Regions from separate parts of the Homo sapiens genome. Here region 2 is reported to be linked to region 1. Evidence: microRNA targets listed by miRTarBase, many of them from high-throughput screens and not tested one by one. Region 1 holds a microRNA gene; the other region holds the end of a gene's coding sequence.

Region 1 (5,527 bases):
AACTCAGTCCCAAAGTACTGGGATTACAGACCCCATGCCTATGTCTTGAGTGGTATTGCCTAGGTGAAAAATGTCATTGGTAGATAGGTTTGAACCTATAAATTTCTTTGGCCAGTATGGCCATTTTAATGATATTGAGTCTTCCTATTCATGAGCATGGAATGTTTTTCCATTTGTTTGTGTTATCTCTGACTTCTTTGAGCAGTGTTTTGTAATTTTCATTGTAGAGATCTTACAATCCCTGGTTAGCTGTATTCCTGGGTGTTTTATTCTTTTTGTGGCAACTGTGAATGGGATTGCTTTCCTGATTTGGCTCTCAGCTTGGCTGTTATTGGTGTACAGGAATTCTAGTGATTTTTATACATTGATTTTGTATCCTGAGATTTTGCTGAAGTTGTTTATCAGCTTAAAGAGCTTTTGGGCTGAGATGATGGGATTTTCTAGATAAAGAATCATGTCATTTGCAAACAAAAAATAGTTTGACTTCCTGTCTTCCTATTTCAATGCATTTTATTTTATTTTTTAGTTTTACTTTAAGTTCTGGGATACATGTGCTGAATGTGCAGGTTTGTTACATAGGTATACATGTGCCATGGTGGTTTGCTCCACCTATCAACCCATCATCTAGGTTTTAAGCCCTGCATGTATTAGATATTTGTCCTAATGCTCTTCCTCTTCTTTCCCTGCACATCTGACAGGCCCTGGTGTGTGATGTTCCCCTCCCTGTGTCCATGTGTTCTCATTGTTCAACTCCTACTTATGAGTGAGAACATGCAGTGTTTGGTTTTCTGTTTCTGTGTTAGTTTGCTGCAGATGATGGTTTCCAGCTTCATCCAAGTCCCTGCAAAGGGCATGACCTCATTCTTTTTTATGGCTGCATAGTATTCCATGGTGTATATGTGCCATATTTTCTTTATCCAGCCTATCATTGCCAGGCATTTGGGTTGGTTCCAAGTCTTTGCTATTATAAATAATGCTGCAATAAACATACATGTGCATATGTCTTTATGGTAGAATGATTTATAATCCTTTGGGTATATACCCAGTAATGGGATTGCTGGATCTAATGGTATTTCTGGTTCTAAATCCTTGAGGAATTGCCACACTGTGTTCCACAATGGTTGAACTAATTTACACTCCCACCAACAGTGTAAAAGCATTCCTATTTCTCCACATCCTCACCAGCATCTGTTGTTTCCAGACTTTTTAATACTCACCATTCTCACTGGCATGAGATGGTATCTCACTGTGGTTTTGATTTGCATTTCTATAATGACCAGTGATGATGAGCTTTTTTTCAAATGTTTGTTAGCCACATAAATGTCTTCTTTTGAGAAGTGTCTGTTCATATCCTTTGCCCACTTTTTGATGGTTTTTTTTTATAAATTTGTTTTAAGTTCCTTGTAGCTTCTGGATATTAGACCTTTGTTAGATGGATACATTGCAAAAATTTTCTCCCATTCTGTAGGTTGCCTGTTCATGCTGATGATAGTTTATTTTGCTGTGAAGAAGCCCTTCAGTTTAATTAGATCCCAATTGTCAATTTTGGCTTTTGTTGCCATTGCTTTTGGTGTTTCAGTCATGAAGTCTTTGCCCATGCCAGTGTCCAGAATGATATTGCCTAGGTTTTCTTCTAGGGTTTTTATGGTTTTAGGTCTTACTTTTAAGTCTTCAATCCATCTTGAGTTAACTTTTGTATAAGGTGTAAGGAAGGTGTCCAGTTTCAGTTTTCTGCATATGGCTAGCCAGTTTTCCCAACACCATTTATTAAATAGGGCATCCTTTCCCCATTGCTTGTTTTTGTCAGGTTTGTCAAAGATCAGATGGTTGTAAATGTGTGGCATTATTTCTGAGGCCTCTGTTCTGTTTCGTTGGTCTATATATCTGTTTTGGTACCAGTACCATACTGTTTTGGTTACTCTAGCCTTGTCATAAGTAAAAAGAACAAAGCTAGTGGCATCACACTACCTGAATGCCATTTATTTCTTTCTCTTGCCTGAGTGCTAAGGCCAGGACATCCAATACTATGTTGAATAGGGGTGGTGAGAGAGGGCATCCTCGTCTTATGCCAGTTTTCAGGGGGAATGCTTCCTGGTTTTGTCCATTCTGTATGATGTTGGCTGTGGTTTAGTCATAGATGGCTCTTATTATTTTGAGGTATGTTCCTTCAATACAAAGTTTATTGAGAGTTTTTAACATAAATGAATGTTGAATTTTATCAAAAGTTTTTCTGCATCTATTGAACTAATAATGTGATTTTTGTCTTTAGTTCTGTTTATGTGATGAATCACATTTGTTGATTTGCATATATTGAACCAACCTTGCATCCCAGGGATAAAGCCTTCTTGATCATGGTGGATTAACTTCTTGATGTGCTGCTGGATTCAGTTTCCAAGTATTTTGTTGAGGATTTTTGCCTCAGTGTTCATCAAGGATATGGGGCTGAAGTTTTCTTTGTTGTGTCTCTGCCAGGTTTTGGTTTCAGGATGATGCTGGCCTCACAGAATTAGTTGGGGAGGAGTCCCTTCTCATTTTGTTGGAATAGTTTCAGTAGGAATGGTACCAGCTCTTCTTTCTTTATTTTAATGGCAGAATGCAGCTGTGAATCCATCTGGTCCTGGACTTTTTGGTTGATAGACTATTTATTACTGATTCAATTTCAAAGCTCATTATTGGTCTGGTCAGGGAAGCAATTTCTTCCTGGTTCAGTCTTGAGAAGGTATATGTGTCCAGGAATTTATTTATCTCTTCTAGGTTTTCTAATTTGTGTGCATGTGTGCATAGAGGTGTTCATAATAGTCTGTAATAGTTATTTGTATTTCTGTGGGGTCAATGGTAACATCCCATTTGTCATTTCTGATTGTGTTTATTTGGATCTGTCTTTTCTTCTTTATTAGTCTAGGTAGTGGACTACCTTATTAATGTTTTTCAAAACACCAACTCTTGGATTTGCTTATTTTTTCATGGCTTTTAATGTCTTGATCTCCTTCAATTCAGCCCTGATTTTGGTTATTTCTTGTCTTCTGCTAGCTCTGGAGTTGGTTTGCTCTTGCTTCTCTAGTTCTTTTAGTTGCAGGGTTAGGTTATACATTTGAGATGATTCTAACTTTTGATATTAAGTTGGAATTTAGTGCTATAAATTTCCCTCTTAACACTGCCTTAGCTGTGTCCCAGAGATTCTGGTATGTTGTATCTTTGTTCTCATTAGTTTCAAAGAATTTCTTGATTTCTTCCTTAATTTCATTATTTACCCAAAAGCCATTCAGGAGCAGGTTGTTTAATTTCCATGTAACTGCATGTTTTGAGTTTTTTGTAGTCTTGATTTTCACTGCTATCCAAGAGTGAATTTGGTATGATTTCAGTTCTTTTACATTTGCTGAAAATTGTTATATAACCAACTGTGTGGTTGACTTTACAATATGTGCCATGTGGTGATGAGAAGAATGTATAGTCTGTTGTTTTGGGGTGGAGAGTTCTGTGGAGATCTATCAGATCCATTTGGTCCAGTGTTGAATTTGGGTCTGAAATATCCTTGTTAATTTTCTGCCTTGATCATCTGTCTAGTTCTGTCAGTAAGTGTTGAAGTCTCCCACTATTATTGTGTTGGAGTCTAAGTCTCTTTGCAGGTCTCTTGAGAACTTGCTTTGTGAATCTGGGTGTCCCTGTGTTGGGTGCATACGTATTAGGAGAGTTAGGTTTTCTTGTTGAATTGAACCCTTTACCATTATGTAACGCTCTTGTCTTTTTTGATTTTTGTTTGTTTAAAGTCTGTTTGTCTGAGATTGGGATTGCAACCCCTGCTTTTTTCTGTTTTCCATTTGCTTGGTAGATTTTCCTCCATCCCTTTATTTTGAGCATATGGATGTCACTGCATGTGAGATGGGTCTCTTGAAGACAGCATACCATTGGGCCTTGCTTCTTTATCCAGCTTGTTACTATATGCTTTTTAAATGGGGCACAGAGTGACAAGCTGGTTAAAGAAGCAAGACCCCTTCAAGATTATTATTGATATGTGTGGATTTGATTCTGTCATTGTATTGTTATCTGTTTTTTATGCCAGCTTGTTTGTGTGGTTGCTTTATAGTGTCACTGGCCTCTGTACTTGTGTTTTTTTTTAATTGGCTGGTAATGGTCTTTCCATATTTAGTGCTTCGTTCAAGATCTCTTGTAAAGCAGATCTGGTGGTAATGATCTCCCTCAGCATTTGCTTATCTGAAAAGGATCTTATTTCTTCTTCACTGAGGAAGGTTAGTTTGGCTGGATATGAAATTCTTGGTTGAAGATTTTCTTCATTGAGAATGTTGAATATAGGCCCCCAATCTCTTCAGGCTTGTAGGGTTTCTGCTGAGAGGTCTGCTGCTAGCCTGATGGGGTTCCCTTTCTCTCTAGCTGCTTTTAACATTCCTTCTTTCATTTTGACCCTGGAAAGTCTGATTGTGTATCTTGGTGATGATATTCTTATGGAGAATCTTGCAGAGGTTCTCTGTATTTCCTGAATTTGACTGTTGGCCTCTGTAGTGAGGTTGGGAAAGTTTTCACAGAAGATATCCTGAAATATGTTTTCCAAGTTGTTTGCTTTCCCCCAATCCCTTTCAGGGATGCCAGTGATTTATAGTTTGGGCCTCTTTATATAATCCCATATTTCTCAGAGGTTTTATTTGTTCCTTTTCATTATTTTTTCTTTATCTGTATATGACTGTCGTGTTTAAAAGAGCCAGTCTTCCAAGTTCTGAGATTTCTTCCTCAGTTTGGTCTATTTTGCTGTTAATTCTTGTGACTGCATTGTGAAAATCTTGCAGTTTGTTTTTCAGCTCTATCAGATGAGTTCTTTTATACTGGCTATTTTATCTGTCAGCTTCGGTATCATTTTATTTTGATTGTTAGTTTTCTCGGATTGGATTTTGCCATTCTCTGGAACCTCAATGATCTTTGTTCCTATCAGTATTCTGAATTTTCTTTCTGTTATTCCAGCCAACCCTGGTTAAGAATCCTTGTTGAAGAACTAGTGTAGTCATTTGGAGGATATAAGACACTCTGGTCATCTGACTTGTCAGAGTTCTTGTGTTGGTTCTTTCTCATCTCTGCATTTAGGTGTTCTCTTAACTGCTGGGCTGCCTCTGATTGAAGCGGTCAGGCAGGGGCAGAGTGGTTGCACTGGAGTCCTGGGCCTGGTAACTCTGCCCAGTGAAGAGAAGTGAGGACCAGGACCTGCGTGGAGAACAGTATGGACACTTTTCCATTAGGTGGATGCTCTGTGCTGGGGGTTCAGACCAGTGCCGGGTCCCCATGGACTCTCTAGAGCCTGGAGACAAGAAGGGTGAGGGCTGTGAGACAGCAAAGATGGCAACCCACCCCTCCCACTGGGAGCTCTGTCCCAGAGAGCTGAAGAACTGCTACTGGCTCAATAGCTCCAGTGGGGAAAGGCTGGAGACCCAGGCTGGGAGAACCTGCCCAGTGAGGAGATACGGGAACAGGGACTCATGTAACAAACATATAGAAAACATGTAACATGTAGAAAACATGTAAC
Region 2 (5,245 bases), not on the chromosome of region 1:
GGATCCTATCTAAGGTGCACAAAACCAGCTGTCTCCTGAACTCCTGGAGAGAAAAAGGCACACACCCACGTTACTTAGTTTCTTTTTCTGCCCCTCCACACCATCAGCCTGGGATATACCCTGGGCTCCCAAACTCAGAGGGGGTACTAGGTAGGCTCAAGTTAGACCTATGAAGCACTTCTCTGGGAGGCCTGGCTGGGGAAGCTGGTGAGACTGGAGGAGGTGAGTAACGGAGGCTGCCATATCGGGGGGAGTGGGGGATTAACAAGAAGACCTCTTGGTTTGCAGGTTCATGACTCTAGCTCACAAATACTCCTTAAAAAACACAAGAGCAGCCACTGAGAGGCCAGGATGGGAGCCAAGGGGCCTGCACACACACACCCAGCCGCTGCGTCTTCCTGTGTCCTTAGTGTGGCTTGGCAGAGCCTGGCCAGAGCCCATCCTCTCCCTTATACCTGGGCAGAGGCCAGGGGCTGTGAAGGTGGCAGCACCTGCAGGTCTGGTGCCTGTGAGCCCCAGGTCCGGTGGAGCAAGGAGAGAGGAGGATGCTGGATGATGAGAGTGGGAACCCTAGCAGCAAGGATGAGCACAGAAGGGGGTGCTGGCCAACGCAGCCAGGATTTGACCTAAGGATGGGGATCCCTGGCCCCCTGCTCTTGCCCAGAGCTGGTGGGGGGCCTCAGTGGGCCCCAGAACCAAGAAGAGAAAGGCAAGGCCAGTGGGGCCAGACATCTGTGTGTTGACAATAAAGTTTTGTGTTGGAATCAATGTCTCTGACTGGTGGATCTCCAACTCCTTGGGGCACTTGCCTGGGTCTAATAGGAAAGACAGATCTTGCCCCTCAAAATCCCGTTTGTCTGGTGGGAGAGTCACAGGCTGCCCTGAAGAGCATCCAGTCTAATGGGAGGGAGAATTGCACCCCTAAAAATTTCTGACTTAATGGTAGAGATATAACCCTTGCCCTCAGGGTCCTAAGCTTTGTGGAGGAAAGTCTGGTCCTCATGGGAGGGAGCCCCTGTCTGATGAAGGAGATGGCCCTACCTGCTCTCTCCCTGTCTGAAGATGGAGACTGGTCCTCACTCTGGGGAGCCCTTGTCTGATGGGATCACCAATGACCAAGTCACACAAGTACAGGCACCTCCATCCTAGGGCAATGGAGACTGACTACTTAAAATGTGGGTCCTGGCAGCTTCCTAGAGGAGAGGAAGATTTTGCGGGTCAGATGAATGAAGTCTGGTGGGGAACTTAGGACCTGTGAAGCCTATTTGGGATCTTCATACTCAAGGCCACTGAGAGCCTCAGCAGGTTCCTGAGCTATGCAATCTGGGGAGAGTCAGAAAATTGTGGCAGTTATGGGCAATAGAAAGAGCTGCCTTGGAGGACAGGAAACCTCGGTTCTGGTCCTTCAGTGAGTCACTTGGCCTTGTTTTCCCCATCTGTGCGATGGAGAGAGGGTGAGATTGATCTCCATCTCTAAAATCAAATAATCCCCTCTTATCCCAGGAAGTGGAAGACCCATGGGATCAGCTATGTCCCTGGGATGCAGGTGTCAGGGGATAGCCTGGAAGGCCTGGACATCTGCCCTGTTGTTCAGCGAAGCCTGACACTTAGGGGCCGTGGCGATATTCACCAGTTGGAATGGGAGTCCCCAGAGGTCCACTGATTGCAGCTGATGGGAAACCCCACCCCCCATCGTCCTCCCATCAGCATTGGTTCCAACTCTGAAAAGCCCCCTGGGGTCTGTTGGGAAGGAGTCTGGCCCCTGGGGATGGATGGTGCACTCAGTAGGCAGATGAGAGGCAGCAACAGAGCCAGCAGTGCCTTACTGTCTCGGAGCCGTTAATCTATTCCCCTGTTTGAGCCAGGACTTCTTCCCAGCACCCTCCAGGACCATCAGCAGCACAGAGAAGGGCACCCAGCGGATTTTGCTGCTGCTGTTGCTACTTACTGGAGATGGCGCCCTCAACCTGCCTGGTGAGTATCTACATACTCTTTCCACCCATCTTTCTCTGGGGGCCCTCTCAGCCCCTCTTCTTGTTGGCCAGAGAGGGAAGAAGGTGGCAGATCAGATGGTGTCTTCAGGAGGAGCTAACAGTTTGAGTATGGCTATCCTTCACCCCTAACTGTCTGAAAGGCTTGGAGCATCAGTGAGCTTACAGTCAGGAGCACAGCAGGGTGACCTCCATGGAGCTCCTGGCCTTGACCATCTATCTCCTCCAGGATGCTATTTTGTCTATCTACTCCCTTCATCTTGTTTGTCATCTCATCTGTCTCTGCCTTTGTCTTTCCCATCCGGGCCAACCTAACAGCCTGGAGTTTCAGCAGGCTAGTTCCTTCCCAAACTGGCCTGGAACTGAGGGCCCAGGAAGTCATACTCTCCCCTTCCCCTTCCCCTTCCCTACTCCAGCAAAGAGCAACTACCACTCCCCATGCCTTACTGAGCCTGAGTTAGGAGTGGGGCCCCGGATTCTGAGCTCCTAGGACAGTGCGGGGGAAGATATTGGGAGGTGGCTGGAAATTGTGTGTCTCATCACCCCTATGGTCTCACCTGATGGGTTTCCCATCAGCTACAATCAGTGGACCTCTGGGGACTCCCTATGAGTCCATAACTTTTACCAGGGACAGGAGCATCCTTGGCAAACTGTCCAGGAAGCAGACACCAATTCTGATGACAGGAGCAGCAGGGGATAATCATTCCCAATAGCAGTTCTACTCATTGAGTACCTACTAGGTGCTAAGCATGGTGCTGAGTGCTTCACACGCAGTATTTCATCCTCATGACCATCAGTGAAGTGGGTATGAAGAGGATATGTCCCCACGGGGGACTTATCCTCCATCACAGAACTGAGATCCTAACCCAGGTCTGACTTCAGAGCCCAGGTCACACTTCTCAAGGGAGCTTCTGTGGGCAGGAAACCTCAATATCATAAAGATGTCAATCCTCACTGAACCTATAATTGCAGGGCACCTCCAATCACAATTCCAACAGGTTGCTTGTAGAAATTGTTAAGCTGATCCTAACATATGTAAGGAAGAACAAAAGGCCAAGAATAGTCAAGATAATTTTTTTTTTTTTTTGAGACGGAGTTTTGCTCTTGTTGCCCAGGCTGGAGTGCAATGGCACGATCTTGGCTCACTGCAACCTCCACCTCCCAGATTCAAGCAATTCTTCTGCCTCAGCCTTCCGAGTAGGTGGGAGTACAGGCATGCGCCACCAAGCCCAGCTAATTTTTTGTATTTAGTAGAGATGGGGTTTCACCATGTTGGTCAGGCTGGTCTCGAACTCCTGACCTCAAGTGATCTGCCCACCTCGGCTTCCCAAAGTGCTGGGATTACAGGTGAGAGCCACTGCGCCCGGCCTGTCAAGATAATTTTGAAGCACAAGATGGGTGACTCACCCGACCAAATATTGAGGCTTACTATAAAGTAACAGTAAGATAATGTGGTGTTGGTTGGGGGAAAGATGGACTTTTCCATAAGGGGGCAGGGATAACTGATTAACTATATGGAAAAAACATAAAGTCAGATTCAGTGGAAACATCCCTCCCTGCAAATAAAAACTTGAGACCCCTATAGCAAGACATATAGGTTCAGTGCAAACTAGATCTTTGTTGCAAATGGACCCCACAGATGACTAGAGTTTACAATGCTCCTCCACACTGAGCCAAGTCCCTCACTAGGCTAAGAGGAACATGGAGGCCCAGAGAGAGGTGAGACCTTCCCCAGCGTCACCCAGCAAGCCAGTAATAGAGCCAGGTGTAGAGCGTAGGTCCCCCTACCCTTTCCAAGCATCCTTGCCAATTCCCCTGGCCTGTTGCAATCCCTTAGCTCTGCACAGGGCCAGAAGAAAGTGGGTGTGGGACTGGGCAAGGTGGCTCATGCCTACAATCCCAGCACTTTTAGAGGCCAAGGCAGGAGGATTGCTTGAGGCCAAGAGTTTGAGACCATCCTGGGTAATATAGTGAGACCTCATCTCTACAAAAAATAAAAAGAAGGCTGGGTGCAGTGGTTCACGCCTGTAATCCCAGCACTTTGGGAGGCTGAGGGGGGCAGGTCATGAGGTCAAGAGATCAAGACCATCCTGGCCAACATGGAGAAACCCTGTCTCTACTAAAAAAATAAAAAATAAATTAGCTGGGCGTGGTGGCACGCGCCTGTAGTCCCAGCTACTCAGGAGGCTGAGGCAAGAGAATCACTTGAACCCGGGAGGTGGAGGTTTTAGTGAACTGAGATTGTGCCACTTTACTCCAGCCTGGCAACAGAGTGAGAATCTGTCTTTAAAAAGAAAGAAAGAAAGAAAGAAAGAAAGAAAAGAAAAAAATCAGCTGGGCGTGGTGGCATGCGCCTATAGTCCCAGCTACTCGGGAGGCTAAGGCAGGAGAATCACTTGAACCCAGGAGGTGGAGGTTGCAGTGAGCTGAGATTGTGCCACTGCACTCCAGCCTGGTGACAGAGTGAGGAAAAAAAAAATCAACTGGGTGTGGTGCAATGTGTGTGCAATGTGGTGCGCCTGTAGTCCCAGCTACTCGGGAGGCTGAGGCAGGAGAATTGTTTGAACCCAGAAGGCAGAGGTTGCAGTGAGCTGAGATCACGCCACTGCACTCCAGCCTGGTGACAGAGTGAGACTCCATCTCAAATAAATAAATAAATAATAAAAAGAAAAATGTTAGTCGAGTGTGGTGGTGCGCACTTGTAGTCCCAGCTACTCAGGAGGCTGAGGCAAGAGGATCACTTGAGCCCAGGAGTTTGAGGCTGCAGTGAGCCATGATTGCACCACGGCACTACAGCCTGGGCAACTGAGACTCTGTCTCTAAAAAAAAAGTGAGGGTGTGGATGGTGCCAGAAAAGAAGGGTTGGTGCATCTTCAGAATTAGGCGATGGGAAGGACAAAGAATGAGCCTGCCACCTGGGCTGGGTCACTTCCAGTTTTTTTTCTTTTCTTTTCTTTTCCTTTTTTTTTTTTTTTTTGAGTTTTGCTCTTGTTGCCCAGGCTGGAGTGCAATGGCATGATCTTGGCTCATTGCAACCTGTGCCTCCCGGGTTCAAGCGATTCTCCTATCTCAGCCTTCCAAGTAGCTGGGATTACAGGTGTGTGCCACCACGCCTGGCTAATTTTGTGTGTTTTGTAAAGACGAGGTTTCACCATGTTGGTCAGGCTGGTCTCGAACTCCTGACCTCAGGTGATCCTCCCATCTCAGCCTCCCAAAATCCTGGGATTACAGGCGTGAGCCACCATGCCTGGCCA

Evidence for each region. Region 1 holds the annotated microRNA hsa-miR-5586-5p (UAUCCAGCUUGUUACUAUAUGC, at 3,922-3,943, shown strand). A microRNA usually pairs through its seed, bases 2 to 8, with sites in the 3' UTR of a target mRNA and lowers its output. Matches are read on the target gene's strand: a 7mer-m8 pairs with bases 2 to 8, a 7mer-A1 pairs with bases 2 to 7 and ends in A, and an 8mer does both.
Region 2: the mRNA of CATSPER4 is a reported target of hsa-miR-5586-5p. Seed matches in the 3' UTR shown: 7mer-m8 at 548-554.

Annotation. Positions count from the first base shown.
Region 1 is chr14:59,645,415-59,650,941 of GRCh38, reverse strand. MIR5586 (microRNA 5586) reads left to right here and starts at 3,922; the gene lies at 3,922-3,980. The region is part of intron 3 of RTN1 (reticulon 1); the gene reads left to right.
Region 2 is chr1:26,202,201-26,207,445 of GRCh38, forward strand. It overlaps CATSPER4 (cation channel sperm associated 4), which reads left to right. Exons shown (of 10, transcript NM_198137.2): 10 at 289-764. The coding sequence ends at 342. Among named protein-coding and RNA genes, the nearest start is that of CATSPER4, 14 kb to the left of the region's middle. RefSeq lists an enhancer at 1-227.